Regions from separate parts of the Homo sapiens genome. Here regions 2 and 3 are each linked to region 1. Evidence: fine-mapped expression QTL. A gene starts in region 1. Each other region holds a variant in brackets. All regions are shown on one strand. Distances are from middle to middle. Region 1 holds the start of PDE5A (phosphodiesterase 5A). Region 2 has its middle 41 kb from the start of LINC02502. Region 3 has its middle 41 kb from the start of PDE5A.

The links. PIP is the estimated chance that this variant, and not a neighbour inherited with it, causes the effect.
Region 2: its variant is the best candidate, but not a certain one, in a credible set for the expression of PDE5A in aorta (GTEx, PIP 0.79).
Region 3: its variant is the best candidate, but not a certain one, in a credible set for the expression of PDE5A in whole blood (INTERVAL, PIP 0.80).

The regions. Positions count from the first base shown.
Region 1 is chr4:119,626,811-119,632,646 of GRCh38, reverse strand. PDE5A (phosphodiesterase 5A) reads left to right here and starts at 3,843. Exons shown (of 21, transcript NM_001083.4): 1 at 3,843-4,127. The coding sequence starts at 3,976. It overlaps LOC107986192 (a long non-coding RNA gene), which reads right to left and starts at 4,857. Exons shown (of 1, transcript NR_165235.1): 1 at 1,892-4,857. RefSeq lists silencers at 3,510-3,909, 5,130-5,409 and an enhancer at 4,950-4,999.
Region 2 is chr4:119,977,269-119,983,104 of GRCh38, reverse strand. No RefSeq gene overlaps it. Among named protein-coding and RNA genes, the nearest start is that of LINC02502, 41 kb to the right of the region's middle. The variant T/C (reference allele first, on the strand shown) is at 2,924.
Region 3 is chr4:119,667,367-119,673,202 of GRCh38, reverse strand. No RefSeq gene overlaps it. Among named protein-coding and RNA genes, the nearest start is that of PDE5A, 41 kb to the right of the region's middle. The variant A/C (reference allele first, on the strand shown) is at 2,439.

The DNA of each region.
Region 1 (5,836 bases):
CACTCTCATGACCTCATCTAACCTTGATTGCCTCTTTAAAGGCCCTATCTCCAAATACAATCACATTCTGTGGTACTAGGGGTTAGGGCTTCAACATATGAATCTGGGGAAACAAATCAGCCCATAAGACTAGTATACAGAGATACAATTGATTTTTGTATACTGACCATTTATGCTGCAAGCTTGCTGAATCACCTCTTAATTCTTGTAGTTGCTTTGTGCATTCCTTTGGGTATTCCTCATAGATACTCATGTCTGCAAATGGAGAATGTTTACTTTTTCATTTTTATGCCTTATATTTCTTTTTTGTGTTTTTGCTTTGTTGCATTTGTTTTTTCTATTTGTATGACCAAAATCTTTAGCAGTACAGGTAGGTAACAACCAAATAATGTAGAACCCCATAAGCCACGTTACAGAGTTTGAATTTTATTTTAGCACAGTGGGAATACATTGAAGGTCTTTAGTTAAGCTGTTGCTCATGAGCAACAAATGAGCAATGACATATATGTATGTATATACACATATATATCATTGATTTTATATATATATATATATATATCTTAGTCCACTTGTGTTGCAATAACAAAATACCACAGACTGGGTCATTTACAAAAATTAAATATATATATACATATACACACATATATATATCATACATATACACATACATACATCATTGCTCATTTGTTTGTTATAAATAGCATTAACAGCATTTTTCAAGTTATATCCTGGGAGTGTTTATGATTTACTTATTCTTCAACTAATTCCATAACAAGATTTGAGGTGCTTAGAACAATTCATGCCAAGTTAAAACAAAATAATTGGGCAAATTGGGATAAAGAATAAAATGGAGTTGAAAAACAAGAGGCCCAGGTAATGTCAGTTCAAAATATGCTTACCTTTAACTACTTTAAATTTACAGGAGGTATAGTTACACATTTTGGCTGAATCTCCCAGAGACTAGAACTGTTTGAGACACTTCTGTTCCCCAATCCCTTGTGATATGTTTCTCAGGTAATAGGCCTTCACAGTAACTCCCAAACTATCATATATACCACACAGACTTGAGATTCACTATTGAGAGAATCTATGTACTGTTTTTCTTTTTTTTTCTTTTTTGTTATAGAGCCGGGGGTCTTACACTGTCACTGAGGCTGAAGTGCAATGGCACGATCATGGCTCACTGCAGCCTTGACCTCCTGGGCTCAATCCTCTTGCCTCAGCCTCTCGAATAACTAGGATTACAGGTGTGTTCCCCCATGCCTGGCTAATTTTTAAAAATTTTGTGTAGAGATGGGGTCATGCCATGTGGCCCAGGCTGGTTCAAACTCCTGAGCTCAAGTATCCTTCTACCTCTCCCTCCCAAAGTTCTGAGATTACAGGAATGAGCCACTGTGCCCAGCCTATAGATTGTTTTTCTTGAAGCAATTTTTCAGAAACCTTCCTGGTTTCTGATAATTTAACCCTTTCAGGTTAGGAGAGAAAAATGAACATTTTGATATTACCCACTGTCTTAGTCCATTTGTGTTGCTGTAATAAAATATCACAGACTGGGATATTTATAAACAATAGAAATTAATTTCTCTCAGTTCTGGAGGCTGGAAACTCCAAAATCAAAGTGCCAGCAGATTTGGCAACTGGTGAGGGCTGCTCTTTGCTTACAAAATGGCACCTTGTTGCTGCATCCTCAGCAAGGGTCAGTGCTGTGTCTTCACATAGTGGAAAGAATAGAAGGGGCCAACTGTCTCCTTTGGGCCTTTTTTTAAAAAGGCACTAATGCATTCACAAAGGCAGAGCCCTAATGGTCTAATCACCACTTAAAGGCACCTCCTCTTAATACTGTTGAATTAGGGATTAAGTTTCAACATGAATTTTGGAGGGAATACAAACATTGAAATGATTATACGTGTTTATTTAATCAAGTATCCAACAAAAGCAAATAATTCAAGCCCCAAATTCACTGCATCTTTAGTAGATAAGCAGAGTTTTAAATTACGATTGATCTCCTGTTAGGAGGAATGCATGGATTTCCACAAGAAAAAACTGTACTGAGGAGAAACTTTCCACAGTAATGTGCCACTTTTCAGTCAACGACAGACCACATATATGAGTCCCATAAGATAATACTATATTTTTACTGTACCTTTTCTATGTTTAGATATGTTTAGACACACAAATATCATTGCATTACAATTGCCTACAGTATTCAGTACAGTAATATGCTGTATAGATTTGTGGTCTAGGAGCAATAGCCTAAGTGTGTAGTAGGCTGAGCCATCTATTTTGTGTTAGTACACTGTGATGTTCAGAGAAGGATGAAATTGCCTAAGGATACATTTCTCAGAATGTATCCTGTTGTTCGGTGACGCATGACTGTATTCCATGAGCACTATAATCACTATCATAGTAACACATTAGGAGAGAATTCTCATTTCTAAATCCAATATAATTTATCACCCATTAGTTCATACTCTACTGCTTTGATTGCTTTTCTTTGGTTGTGGCTACCTGCATACAGCAGTAAAGTTTCAGAAAAACTGAAGTCGCAAAAGGTCAATTACTCAATGAAGGAAAGATAAACCATTGCATTGGGGGACTAGAAGATACTTTTAAAAGTTCTCAGATTATCAATTTAATGATGTGTTTCTATGTAGTGAATAATGCCTTAAATTCTTGCCAAGAGTATTTAGAAGGAAGTTGTCAGAAGTATATCAGCTAACTCATTTTTTTTTATATCACTGCTAATGGTGTCATTCACACATTGTGCAACCCATAATTCCAGATTTAATTCTACCAAAAAATATAGGTCATTGCAAAATGCCATATTAAAACTGCCAATGCATGACAGGAAGATGGGGATGCAGACAAAGCAAAGGATGACACCAATTCCTTTTTTAAAGAAGCAAGATAGGGATTGGACAAAAAGGCTGAGCCATTTTTAATGGATACTTTTGAGGGAGTGTTAATTCCAATTTAATTAAAATGATGCATTAATTTAAAATTGGGATAACTGGTTGCCCTCGACTGCACCTGGGTTGCGCCAGTGCTCTCGGATTAACCTAATTGTACAGAGGTGCCCTTGTTTTCTAACTTCATGCACAAAGCATTGGAAATTATTTGTTTGCTTTTTCTTTTCCAAGTAAATCTTTTTCCAGTTATGCATAAGGGAAGTTTGAGGCAATGGTTAAAGGCACTTAAGTTATAATTATTGCTGTTATCATTAACATTAAGCACGGGTATGGCTTTGTTGCAAGTTACCCACCTACACCTGCAAATCTCTCTTGCTAGCACACGCCCCAGCTCTCTCCACCCGCAGTGGTCCGTGGCTGGACCGCTTTAAGTCACTGAGCGGGCTGGGCTCTGAAGGAGGTCGGTCCCGCTCCTCCCAGACCCAAGCGTAGGGCTAGGGAAAAGCTAGGCGGGAAGGTCATTGCACTCCCAGGCCCCAGGAAAAGGGCCCAGGGTCTCATCATCTCTTACTTTCGGGCAAAACTTCCCACATCGCGACCTTCCCTCCCTGGGGCACTCTGAGAACACACCCAGTCACCTAGCGCGCTCCCCAGAAGTCGGCTTGGCACACAGCGCACCCCAGCGGCCGCGCGGCCTCCTTCCAGCCGCCGCCACTTGGCTTCCGGAGAGCTCGCCGGGCGCTGCCGCTGCCGCCGCCGCCGCCGCCTCCTGGGAACCAGGGGACTGAAGAGCCTGCGAGAGCGGAACACTGCCGGACCCCGGGTGGGGGGGGCGCAGCAGCTGCGCCTGGCCCCGCCCACCACACCTGGGCGCCCGTAGAACCGCGCGGGGCGGGGCGGGGCAGGAGGCTGGCCTGGCGCTCCGGCCGCTTTGTCGAAAGCCGGCCCGACTGGAGCAGGACGAAGGGGGAGGGTCTCGAGGCCGAGTCCTGTTCTTCTGAGGGACGGACCCCAGCTGGGGTGGAAAAGCAGTACCAGAGAGCCTCCGAGGCGCGCGGTGCCAACCATGGAGCGGGCCGGCCCCAGCTTCGGGCAGCAGCGACAGCAGCAGCAGCCCCAGCAGCAGAAGCAGCAGCAGAGGGATCAGGACTCGGTCGAAGCATGGCTGGACGATCACTGGGACTTTACCTTCTCATACTTTGTTAGAAAAGCCACCAGGTAAGAAGAGGACCCACGGAAGACCCGGGGCTGATTTCTCTCCCCTGTTGAATTGTGCCCTTCGTTCACCCCTGTTCCCAGGCCCTTTGCTTTTGAAGTAGGTCCTCGGTCCTGTTACGAGGTAGAAACCTCAACTCTAAGCGAGCACAGTCGAAAAACTCAAGTGTCGGATTTGATACAACTTGCTCACAAAGTTCAAATACAAAAATGTACTTGCCGACCTCCCACCCTCACCCCCGACCCTCTTGGTATTCCCCGGGAACATGATTATTTTCATACATCCGTGCTCACGGGCCTTCCCCTAGCCCCTCTCTAGCCCTCTGGTTCCCCAAAATCCAATCAGCAAAACCCAAACAGTTTCTGAGCCCCTTCCCTGCAGCTCCGGAAGCACCATTTCCAAGTCGGTCTTGATGGCTCCGCTCCTCCCCCGTCCCCCCTCGCCCTGGCCCTGGCTGGGCGGGGAAGCTGGGGTGAGGGACGAGTCCACGGGACAGCCCAAAGGCAACATGACGGAACCTTGCCAAAGTGAGTGCGGTTGCCTTTTCCCCCCTTCCAGTCTCCTGCTTGTCCCGCGCGCCTCCTTTCACTCGCTTTTCCGCCGAAGGCTGTGCCGCCAAAAGTAGAGCTCTGCAGAGGGGTTTGCGGCGTGCACACAAAGGGCGCAGGGGAGGCGCCGCCTGGAGCGGACCCCAAGGGGCAGCGCAGACCCCAGAGGCCAGCTCTTTCTGGTCCAGAGCCAAGCGCCGGGGCGGCCCTTGCGGAGGGCGGGGAGGAGGGAGCCTGTCCTTTTGGAGGCGGCTGCGCAGCGGGCAGTCGGGGCGCTCGTGGGAAACGCTCGCGGGAGAGTTGGGGAGGAATTGAGACTGGGAGCAGAGGGACAAGAAGAGTGGAGCAGAGAGTGCTTGGCGGGCGGGTGCCCCGAAGCCTGAGGAATTGATGCATAGTCGGGGTGCGTGGACTCCAGGACGCGCCCCTTTGCAGAAAGAGTCCGTGCCCCGCTGCCGCCTGCTCTGGGCAGCGGCCGTCGGGCAGCGGGTGCTGGCCGTCTTGGCCGGGAGGGTGACACACGCCCGGCAGTGATGGTCGAGGAGCCCGCCCGGGTTCGACGCCCGGGTCCCACTCGCCGGCGCGCGGCCGCGGCTCTGCCGGTCGCTCCCCGCCAGGGGGCGGCGCAGCGCGGGGCGAGCGGGAGGCGACGGGCGGCGGCGCGGAGGCCGGGGCCGTGAGGGAGCTGGTTCTGAGTCGCCGACCTCACCTCACCTCACCTGCGCGCGTTGTTGCCCCTACGGAGCCTCCTGGAGTCCAGGATCGGCGGAGTTCGAAAACGAACTTCCCACGTTTGCTATGTTGCCCTTTGGAGACAAAACAAGGTACTTCCTTCAGCATCCCCCTACGTCCCTTCCCACTTTTTCCGGGGGCGCGGCGGGTCTCGGGTGCTGGGTGGTGGCGCCCCGGTGGCACCAGTGGGACGATGTATCATTGAAAATTGACTGTATAACTTTTGTTGTTGTTGTTATTCTTTGCTCTCTTGCAGATGTATTAATAAGGGTCTTAAATTGGGCCCTTTTTAATCTTGTTTTGTTTTGTTTTGTTTTGTTTTTTTCCTAAGGAACATCCAGAGTTGGTGTCAATTTAGTCACTTTCAGGGTTTTTTGACAGAGGGGAAGGCTCCGGGATTAATCTTTTCAATTTAATAACCCAGCCCTTCT
Region 2 (5,836 bases), 350 kb before region 1:
AGTTCCTTTCTGTGTTCTATTTTCTTAAAAAATGATGTATTGGGCCTCCCAGAATGAATGTGAATTACAGCTCTATTATGTCTTTATAGTTAGCAAGTTTTAGGTTTCTTTCCAAAGTACACAAATGAGTTTTAATGATATTTGTAAATGGCTATAATTTAAGATCACAAGGTATTATCTTTGAGATAACATTAGAATTTGGCAGGAAAGAAAACTTTTATTTAGAAACTTGGCTTCTTGAACACAGAATTCTGCTGCTATAAGATTTCAAGTTAGACATTTAGTTGAAATGGAAAAAATAAATGTTGGAAAACTGGAAGTAGATGAGTTTGAAAGGACTATTCAGTGAGTGAATTTACAATTTAAACTGTTGTACACTTCTACACTTCATTTTGTTGGATTATAAAAATAAGTGAACAAAACGTCTTTTCTTATAACAATCACAGCAGACCTGTGTTAGAGTTTCTCCAGAGAAACAGAATCAATAGAATATACATGTACACACATATATGTATACACACTATACATACATATATATATAGTGGGAGAATGTGTGCACATGTCTGCGTATGTGTATATGTGTTTACATATGTACATACACATAGATGGAGATACATGTGTACATATCCATTATATATATCCATTATACATATATCCATTATACACACCTATAATCCATGCATTCTCAGAATTGTGTGTGTGTGTGTGTGTGTGTGTGTGTGTGTGTATATATGTATGTATGGAGAGAGAGAGAAAGAAAGAAAGGTTTATTGTAAGGAATAGGCTCACTAAATTGTAGGGGCTGAGAAGTACAAAATTTGTAAGGCAAGCTAGCAGGTTAGAAATTCAAGTAACAGTTGATCATGCAGTATGGAGTCCAAATTTCATGGACAGGTAAGAAACTCAGATAAGGTTTTATGTTCCAGTCTTCAGGCCAAATTTCTTCTTCTTTGGAAAACATGTATTTGCTCTTCAGGCCTTCACCTGATTGGATGAGGCCCATCCACATTATGGAGGTTAATATGCTTTACTTAATATCTACTAATTTAAATGTTAATTTCACCTAAAAATTATCTTCATGGCAACATCTAGATTAGTGTTTGCTAAAACAACTGGGCACTGTGGCCTGCCAAGTTGTCACATTAAATTTACCATCACAGTGTCTTATTGTTTGTTAGGCTCCTTTTTCTGACATCACCTTCTCAATCAGCTCTGCTCAGTTTCAGCTTACTCTGTGAAATAAAATGCAACATGATCTCAGACATTTGTTTAAGGGGTCTCCAATTTTCTGCAGAACTGAAATCCCTGATTTGTATTTTGGAGAACTCTCCAGATGAGAGCCATTTGGACCAAATCATAGAGTAAATTCTAGAGTAGCTTTGTTTGTCAAAGGTTTGGTGAATGAGGTAATGAGCGACAGAAGAGGATAATATTAACACAGATTTGTCATTAAATTGATGTTATTGTCGATGGAGTATCCCTTGTGTCATTATTGCTATTAGTAAATTTTCATGAAGTTCTTGAGGAGTCCATTGGTCAGATACATACATCAAGCCTGATAGAGTATGAGTAAGGGTAGATCTGGACCTGTCCAAATTCCTACCTCTGGAATCTCAGTGGTCCTCTTCACAGGTTTGTTTAGAGCAGAACTGAGGCTTTCAGCACTAAATTCAAGCTCTCAAAATGCCAACTGCCCATACAAATGTAAGTGGCTGCACAAAGTGAGCAATAAAAAAATGAAGTTAACCATTGCAACTCTTTATGAACCCTTGCATGCTGCTTGAGTTCTTTTAAAGCCATGATAGTAAAAAGTTTTATTGTAATAAAACTTACATTGTAGAGTTTATTGCAATGTTTAAAAAGCAGCACATGTGCATTTACATTTGATTCTCCTTTCAAATAACATTATGGGCAAAATATTGTTGTTTTACAGATATGAAACTGGGAGTTCAGAACTCAAATTTCACTTGCTAAAGAACAAATAGTAAATATTGGGGTCAGAACAAGAACTACATCATCTGGTCTGTTAAGCATTCATAATTGCTGTTCAGGAGAACAGAAAACATTATGTTTCTAAAGTAAATTATTGGCCAGTGGCACTGAACTACTTGTTTTAGAGGTAAAAGCTCTGACAGGAAAAAAAAAAAAAAAACCATATGAAATCACTTTGAAAGGCTTTATTGTAAGTTGCCAGAGAAAAAGTAAAATTTACATGAAACGATTTAAAATGTAACATTAAAAAAAACTGGAAGAAGAAAGAAATGTGTTTTTTCGTTATGATAATAAAGGAAGTAATTTTCTTTTGTGCCTGGTAATTATACTGAAAACATAACTGCAACTCAAATTTAACTGCATCTTTGAAGAAGGTTTCGGGGGTGAAAGACATGCATTTGTGGATTCTGAGGATCAGTTTGATCTTTCCTGCTGTACAGAGATCAAAAGATTCATTGTTATTTGAGAAAAGCAGGATTCAATTATGGCTGAGATGAAAGACAGTGAGAGCTGAGTAGCTGCCTTGGCAATAGTTGTTAATTGAGTATCCAACTACAGACTCTTCCAATTGATTCTTCAAAATCTTAATTCCAATAATTATGCCATTTAGACATCAGAAGAATGCTAACAAAGAAACAAAACTCAAAATCACTGCAAATGACTACAGTGGCTAAGTAATGAAGAAATTGAAAGAGAAGAACCATTTTCCTGGCCCTCCAAAATTAGTGTGTAATGCCCCAAATTAATTAATTTATCTTCCACAGGTCAAATAATAGGTCTTTGGCATCCCAGAACTTGTTTCTCTTTATGTAAATAAATCCATCCTTTGTCTCAGGTACAAAAGCAAATTATTCCATCTCAGTTATCCATTCTGTCATCACCTACACCCTGACCTCTGAGCCCTGACCATTAAGGGACTCTTTTCTGATAG[T/C]TGAATTCAGTGATAAGTTCCTACTTCTATACAGCCTGTAGAAGGTTCAGTTTAGTTCAGTTTAAAATGAGTGGCTTACTATTTCTTATATTGCAGGTTTTTAGAAGTTTTGTCAAAAAATATTTGTTCTGAGAAATTACCTAGTGAAATTAATCTGTGTACAAATAAAAATATGGGCAATTTTTTAATTATTAGTTTTTTTTCCAAAAGAATGTTAGCAGCTCGAATTATGTGAAAAAATTTTCTCAACTCTAAGTCAAACCCATCAAACACAATAAAACAGCTTCTAGAGATTAAACACACACACACACACACACACACACACACACAAAACCATGACAAAAGTAGGTGATAAACCTCTAACTGTATTTAATTTGCATGACATGAACAATTAAATGTTTTCTAAGAGAAGATCAGACATTCTACAGAAAATAACTTCAGAAGGAAGATCTTAAATTTCTTAATCCAGAAGCTTAATATTAGGGCCATGTATTTATATATGTTTTTAGCTGCCATTGTTACTTGCACTCACTGTTTGCACCTGCCTGACATAAATAAGCAAGCATATTCTTAATGCAGTCTTTTTTTTCCTGTGTACTAAATACCAATCATATAGGGGTGAGAGTCAGGATGGAAATGAGTATTTCTTGAATAGCAGTCACTTTCTTTCATATCGACTGGTTTTATTTACTTCAGAGCCTTTTATCACACCTGAAATGACTTTGCTTGTTTATTGAGATGTTCGTAGTTGATTTTTCCTCAAAAGAAGCTAAAAGCAGAACGCTTCTCAGTCAAGTGCTCCTCTGTACCATGAGTACCAAGGAGAGTGACTGGCATTTAGTAGGTCTTCATGTTTTTTAATAAATTCTAGGCACAGGACTAGACGCGGTGTGATTATTACCTCATAAATTCTCAAAGTGATCTTCAAATGTAAATATTATTATCCGTCTTTTATGATTAAGAATCAAGGCTTAAAGGAATTAAGTATCTTGCCAAAGATCAAACAGTTAAGAAGACATGATATAAACTCAGGTCTGATGTGTGTTCTGTTTGGAGGTCATGGGATAATGCATGCTTCCCAAAGTGGGCCATGGCTGTAAGCAATATTATAGATAGTAAGCAAAATGATATTAAGTAGCGCACATTAGATAATTTCAAAAGTTACACCCTTTAAAGCTTTCTTCCAATTAATCTAATTATGTGAAGGATAAAGTCTCATATTAATACCAGTGTGTATGTCATGTTTCTCTAATAATTTCTACTCTCTCTCTCTCTCCCCTCAGTTCAGTTAAGGGCAGGTAAGAATATAAAGCTAGAATTTTGTTTTCAGTGTATTAATTTTTACCAATACTTATTTAAGGCAAGATATCCACTTGCAAGTGTTCCACAATTCCATCATAGACAGCATTCTAGGTAAGGCCGTGAGTTTATTTAAAGAAAATATTACTCGATTAGATAATAGTGTAAGTGACATATTTGGCAAAAATTATGGAAGAGGTGTACAATGTCTAGTTTTAAAAATCCTTCTCTGAAGCAATTTACAAGGCTCTGGAAGAAAAACAAAAAATAGAAGGTATTGCTATGATAGAGAAACTCAGATATGTATCTCAAAACTATTTTAAACGTACTGTACTTCAGGTATAAAATTTAAAGACTACTAACCTCTCAGCGTAACTAGGATAAATACCACTGTGGCACAAAAACTAGGACTACAATTAGGTTACAGTCCTTACCTAATTGTTCTTATAATATAGTTGAGGAGATACATAAATAATCAGTATACAAATTAGGAAGCAAAAAATGTGTAAAAGAAAAAAACACATATGGGAATTTACGGTTCTATAAAATACTAATTACTTCCTGTTATTAAATTTATTAATTATAATAATTATATTATTTCTGTAATTATGAACTACAACATACAAATTATATACCTATATAAATGTTAAAAGTTATACATAATTATAATGAAAAATTTTGTCATGCATGCTCATAACAATAGTAAATATCCTTGCTGATTCTAATATATAAACATAGAAATGAGAACATGGAGCTGCAACCCTGTTTTGGATGGGTATACAATAGAGAAATAGTCACACTTGCAGAAGTGAGGAGTACCTTTTCTTATAGTTTCAAGAAAAGCCTTAAGGGGTTGGCAAATATGACCTGCTAAATTGCCAACCATTTAAAAATAATCAAATTCGTAACCCCAGTAAAGCTAACATATCTTTAATATGGCACAAAGTTAGAGCTTTACTAAGGGATGGTGCTGCCTGAGAAACTGTCATCACTTGGTATACTTTAGGGTAAACTTTTAACAATGGAGGGACTGGTTTTCCTCTTAAATTCTTTATGCTGACATCTGTTTATAGGGAGTATTAGAGTAAATTCATATGGTTCAAAGGCTTGGGTCTCATGTGGGGCCACTTGTCAGTCCCTCACTACTTTCCAGAGCCAACGTTTAAAGGCATAAATTTCCAAGGACATCTGGTGCTTTCTTAAGAAGGGGAGGATGTCTGTGTGGTCACGAGAACGTGGCTCCTAAAAGCACGAGCCCAAGGTTCAGATTCTGACTCTCATTTACTGGAGCAAGCTGCTTGATTTCTGTAAGACTCAATTTTTTTCAACTGTAAACTGTAGGAAAGAATAATGCTTACCTCAGGTTGTTTTGAAGATTAATTAAAATAAAGCAAGAGAATTGTCAGTGAATTGTCTGGGATGTAATAGGCCCTCAGTTAGCGTGACCTGCTATTGGCCTGTGTTATGAACTGCAATGTTCTCTTTTCGGGGCTTTTCCAGAGACCTCAGGTAACATGATCCCTTTAACTTTACAGTACTCTTTAGGGTTGGGACTCACTCCAGTGCTTCAGACCAGTTCCACACGTGTGAAATTTGGGCTCTTTCCTGAGCTGC
Region 3 (5,836 bases), 41 kb before region 1:
CCTGGTAAAGGACATCTGCCAAAAAACCCCTACAGCTTGCATTATAATGGTGAAAGAGTGAAAGGTTTCCCCCTGTAATCAGTAACAAAAGAATTTCAACCCTTGCCACTTCTATACCTTACAAGGGAAACTAGGCAAGAAAAAGAAATAGAAGTATCCAGATCGGAAAGCAAGAAATAAAATAATCTTTATTTGCAGGTTGCATAATTTGCATATACAAAACATGAAGAAATTCACACACATACACACACACACTATAGCTAATGAGTTCAGCACAGCTGCAGAACACAATACCAATATACAAAGATCAGTTGTAATGCTATAGACTAGCAATAAACAAACTAGAAATAAATGTGAGGAAACAATTCCATTGATAACAGCATTATAAAGACTAAAATACTTAGGAATAAACCTAACAAAAAAGTGCAACATGAGTACACTGAAAACTACAAAATTTCATTAAATCAATAAAGGCCTAAATAGAAAGACATTTTATGTTCCTGGATTGAAAGACTGAATGTGGTTAAGATGGCAATGCTCCCCAAATTGATCTAAAGATTCACTACAATCACTATCAAAATACCTGCTGACATTTTTTTGCAGAAATTGACAAGCTAATCTTTAAATTCAAAAGATCCAAAACAGGAAAGCCAAACTTGAAAAAAAACAAAACTAGAAAACTCACTCTTCCTGATTTCAAAACTTGCTACAAAACTACATTAATCAAGACAGTGTAAACAGGCAAAAGGATAGACATGTAAAGGAAGAGAACTGAGAATTTTCTCAGCAAATTAATAATAGAGATTCAAACCTAGACTAGACAACAAAATCCATGCTTTTCCCACTACCATGTAAGTTTTTTTGGTTACCACTGTTCTCTATATTCTGCACAACACTTAGCCTAGGGCCATGTACCAACCGATGAATGAATGGGCAGCGCTTCTGGTGATAATGACTAATCCCATAAGGCAGTAAATGGTACATAAAGAAGGATAATTTTATTTTTAAGTACAACCCACCAGTTACCCTGAAGCTAAAGAAAGAAATTAAAAGCTATCATTATCTATGTGCTGAATAAAAAAACACAGATGAAGATTCTATACTCTAACATCCTTCATCTTTTGGTAAAAATATGAGAATTGAAAAACTATCAGTCAGAAATATAGATACTATCAATCTTAAGACCAAAACCAAAATTAGATTAGCCCGGAGATACCACCTTATATTCTCACTTTGTCTGCCAGCATATCATGTTCAATGGGGTTAAGTATTTGCTAAATGGGAAGAATAGTGTGTATATACATATATTCGTCACACACACAGCTATACACACCCCTGGGAAGTCTTGAAGAGCACTGTAAATTTGAAGGTCTTTGGAAAATTTTAGTCTTGGAACAAGACAGTCCAGGATAGTTTAACATCATCATTAATTAATGTGCAACATGACAAACCTGCCTCCTCTGACACAGAAAATGAAATGTTTCCACAATCAAGCCTGAAGCTAACAGTGTTGGAGTACTAAATGGCTTTCTAACAAATTTAGACTTGACAGTTACTTTGTCTTTCTCTTGTCTTAGCAGATTCATGCTTAAGAAGGCCCCATATTCTCTGGCTATTCAGGGATTATAGGCCAACCTATCCATCTGCCAGGCAGCCATTCAGGATGGGTGTCCTGCATATCCAGCTGTAGGTTTATATCCATGTAATTATATACATGGGTATGTAATAAAGACAGAGGAAGGATGTCCAGAGGAGATTGTGGGTGAATGTTAGGCCAAACTTCTCAACTCCTCATTAGTCTCCTTTTATAGACTTGAGGGCTAACCACATGCAGTGGCACACTTTGATAAAAGTGAATCATAGAAATGGAAATAAATGCATTATCTGGCACACATTTTTGGCTCATTTCTTTAGACAATGAATATAAACAGTTGTCTTTTGTAAGGCAGTAATGTCTAACAGGTATTTTTAAAGAATTTCTATTTTATCTAATATTATGATATAAATTATATCATTTCCAGGTAAAACAAATAGCATTTGAATTGGTATTTCAATGTCACTGACTGTAAAATCAACAAGAAAAATGTGCTTCATTTTCTGGAGCCTAAATTTTCCCACTTACAAAAACAGCAACAATAAAAGTGTTTTCTCTATTTCTCCTGTTAGCGAGAAAACTATTGCACATATCATGCGAAATATCACTTTGATATGAATTTAGGCTTCAGCAATGTGGGCCTGGGCTAAAAGAGTACGGGACATTATAGGGTACCTTCTTGAGAGCCAGACTTTAAAAGCTAATCTGCCTTTCTACCCTTGTTTCTCCTCTGGTCTTGTTTTATTCAGCTCTTTTAACTTTATATATTACATATATATTTGTAAGATACGTACCCAAAGTCACTTTGGAATAAAGTGTGGGTATAAATAATCAAATGTTATTG[A/C]AATAATATCATCATTAATTGAGTTGTCTTGAGCTGGGTGATTATGGGGATGAGGAAACAAGGGAACAATAGAAAATCCTAGTTCACTGCTTAGGAGCACCAACTTGTTAACCACTTAAAATGCATAAATCACAAATAATAAGGCTCTTCTTAACATATGGGAGACATTTTTAAATTAAAAAATGCTGGAAGTGAGAATTAAGTATTTATTAATAGCCTATAAACTACATGCCATGTGCCAGACACTATTCTAGCTGCTGTATATGCATCAGTTCAGGTAATCCTTTTAGCAATTCTCTGTTCCGTTCTATTACTATCACCATTCTCATTTTACAGACAAGGAATTGAGGATCAGAGTGGTTAACTACCTTGCCTAGAGTCACACTGGTACAAAGTGGCAGCCAGGGTTTGAAGCCAAACAGGCTGGCTATGGGGTCTCTTATGCTATTCTGCAGCCTTACTTCTCCAAACAGCAGAAGACAGCTGTGTACACAGCTCTCTGATTCTCAACTCTGAAGGCTCAGTGGTATCATCTTGGGGAAAGGTGGAAGGTGGTTAAAAACACTTCTGAGCCCAGGCCCAACTCAGACATTATTGTCTAAATTTTTTAAAAGCCTCCCAGGTGATTCTGTTCTTGCACCCTGGGTTAAGAACCACTGAGATAAATAAAAAAATTGATTTCTGTTCATAAACTAAAGAGCAGCAATGACTTTAAAGGAATAGTCCATATTCTGAGCATGCTCTTCAAAATCTTTGGAATATAAAATGATTAACATAAAGGCAGTGTCATAGTAATAAAATGGCCAAGAGAATAATAAATCATGACCCAAAGAAACAAGCCGTGTACAGGCCCCGCGTTGGCACTCTGCTGAGTAGAAAAAGACACACCATTTGCCAGAGTAGGAAGTTATCATCTATAATCAAGAGAACATAGAAATAGCTCAGAGGTGAATGCAGACAGATCAAGCCATACCTCATTTACATCGTTCCATTAGTAGAAATGGAAATAAATACATTATAAGACAGCTACCCATCCAGCTAAAGTACTGCTGCATTTTCTGTTTTTACTACATGAAAAAAGAATGTCCTTTTTGTTTTTTTTTTTGTTTTTTGTTTTTTTTTCTTTGAGATGGGGTTTCACTCTTGTCACTGAGGCTGGAGTACAGTGGTGTGATCTCAGCTAACTGCAACTTCCGCCTCCCAGGTTCCAGGGATTCTCCTGCCTCAGCGTCTCGAGTAGTTGGGAATACAGGCATGCCACCATGCCTGGTTTAATTTTTGTATTTTTAGTAAAGATGGGGTTTCACCATGTTGGCCAGGCTGGTCTTGAACTCCTGACTTCAGGTGATCCACCTGCATTGGCCTCACAAAGTGCTGGGATTACAGGCGTGAGCCACCCTACCCAGACAAGTATATCCTTTTAAAACTACTTTTTGCAGTCAACATTATGCAAAATATCTTTAATGACTTTAATTTGTGATAGATGATTGCAGAGACTGAAGGTACTGAATTAATGTACTCTGTACTCAAAAACCAGACTTTATCTGGAGGAAAGAGCAAGGGAGTAAAGGAGCAAGAAAAAGACCCAGTAAAAGAGAAAGAAGCTGAACAAAGTATTAGCAAGTAATAAACCAACGTGTGTTTCCCCTAAGGGTTGTTGATTCCACATGGAGACAATTGACAATGTGCCTTCCATTGTCAACCTTCCCAATTATTTTAGTTCCTGGAGTTTTCCAAATGCACAGAGTTTAACAAATTTGAAATATGTAACTTATTCACTGAGCCTTTTATTGAATAGTTCATTCTTATCCACACTTCTAGATGCAAATGTGTTAGGTGCCAAATTCCTGGAAAAAAAGAGTTATCCTTTTCTCAATAATGGTTTACGTGCATCAAATTCTTTGTGGCAAAATGGGCATATAAAGAACTAAATTAAAAATGTATGTCCTTAAAGCCTGCCCCTGTTTCTTCCTGCTGTAATATCAAACTAATTTGCTTAATGAGGTGACTTAAGAAAGGGGTAGTTCCTTATATTTCATTACTAGATTCTTAACTTTAGGGAATAAGCTGCTATTTGTGTCCAGAAACTCATTCTTTCTCCTAATTTTATCATGACTACCATGTGGTAAAAAGCCCTCAACCTTATCTATCATTTTTCTTCCTTTCTCTTTGGGCTTTGCAGTTTTATAATTCAGAACTATGAACTAGCTCCTGGAGACTTGGGAGAACTAACTCCATATAAATTTGAATAAGCAACAGCAACAACATTCTGTAGAATTTTCAAAGAACCTTCATTTGTGAAGTATTATACTAAGTTGTTTGATGTTAAGGGAGAAATCTACAAAACAATAAGAAAAGTGATAACCAAAAAAAAAATTAATCATGATAATTTAGGCAGATACTAGGTTAGCAATTTCCCTGATAAGATACAAATGGTTGACAGAGGCAGGCTAAACAAATTAATACTCTAGATATAATTACAGAGCAAATAGTACTTAAAATGAATATTTTCTGGCATTTTGAAAGCATCTGCCCATCGACAAGGCATTCTTTCAGACAGAAGCCACAAGGGCTCATCTTTCTCCTTGAACTGCACTCTGTGGTGTCTGATTTGGCCAGGCAGGCCTCGTCTCCTTCACAAGGCTGGCAGGGCAATCATATGTGGAGTCAGCTTTGCACAGCTAGCTCTGCTTATAGCGGCTCCAAGGGCTTGATTTGGAGGCTTGGTTACAGCACGCTGCCACTTTAACCTCCAGCTCATCTGCTTTTTTTAATCTGACATTATCTGCCATTAACACAGTGGTCATTTCTTCAGCATTTGTGACTACTTTCTACTGCACAGAACTTAGAGAAGGGGTGATTCACTGACTCCTAACTTTCAATGGCCACATCAGGCAAGTTGCTTCACTTCCCTAAATTTTTCAGATATAAAATGAGACTGATCACTGCTGAAGTCCCCCACAGCTATTTCATTTACAACTTTTTTAGGTAACACATTTTTAAAAAGCCAGGTTCAACTGGTTATAATCAAAAGTAGCCATATGTGCATTTCCTTAAAAATACTATAATTGTGTCTAGGTCTTCAACAGAGGTTTGTCCAAATTTGTAACACTTTACATATAGAAATTAAAAATACAAAATAAATCCTCATCTATTTCTCTGTATTCCTTTGAGATAGTAAGTCAAGTGTTTTCATTCCTATTAAAGGAATTTTACAAACATCTTTATTATGTTCTTATCCCATTTGAAATATAAGTTTCTTCTGGAAAATTCAAAAGACAAAACAATGGTAGGAAAAGATATATGGATCCAACATGCATCCATGAAATAAATATTCCACAGCCCATTATCTTCAAAGCCAGATTGCTATGTCAAATATCTAGACAGCAAATGGTTGC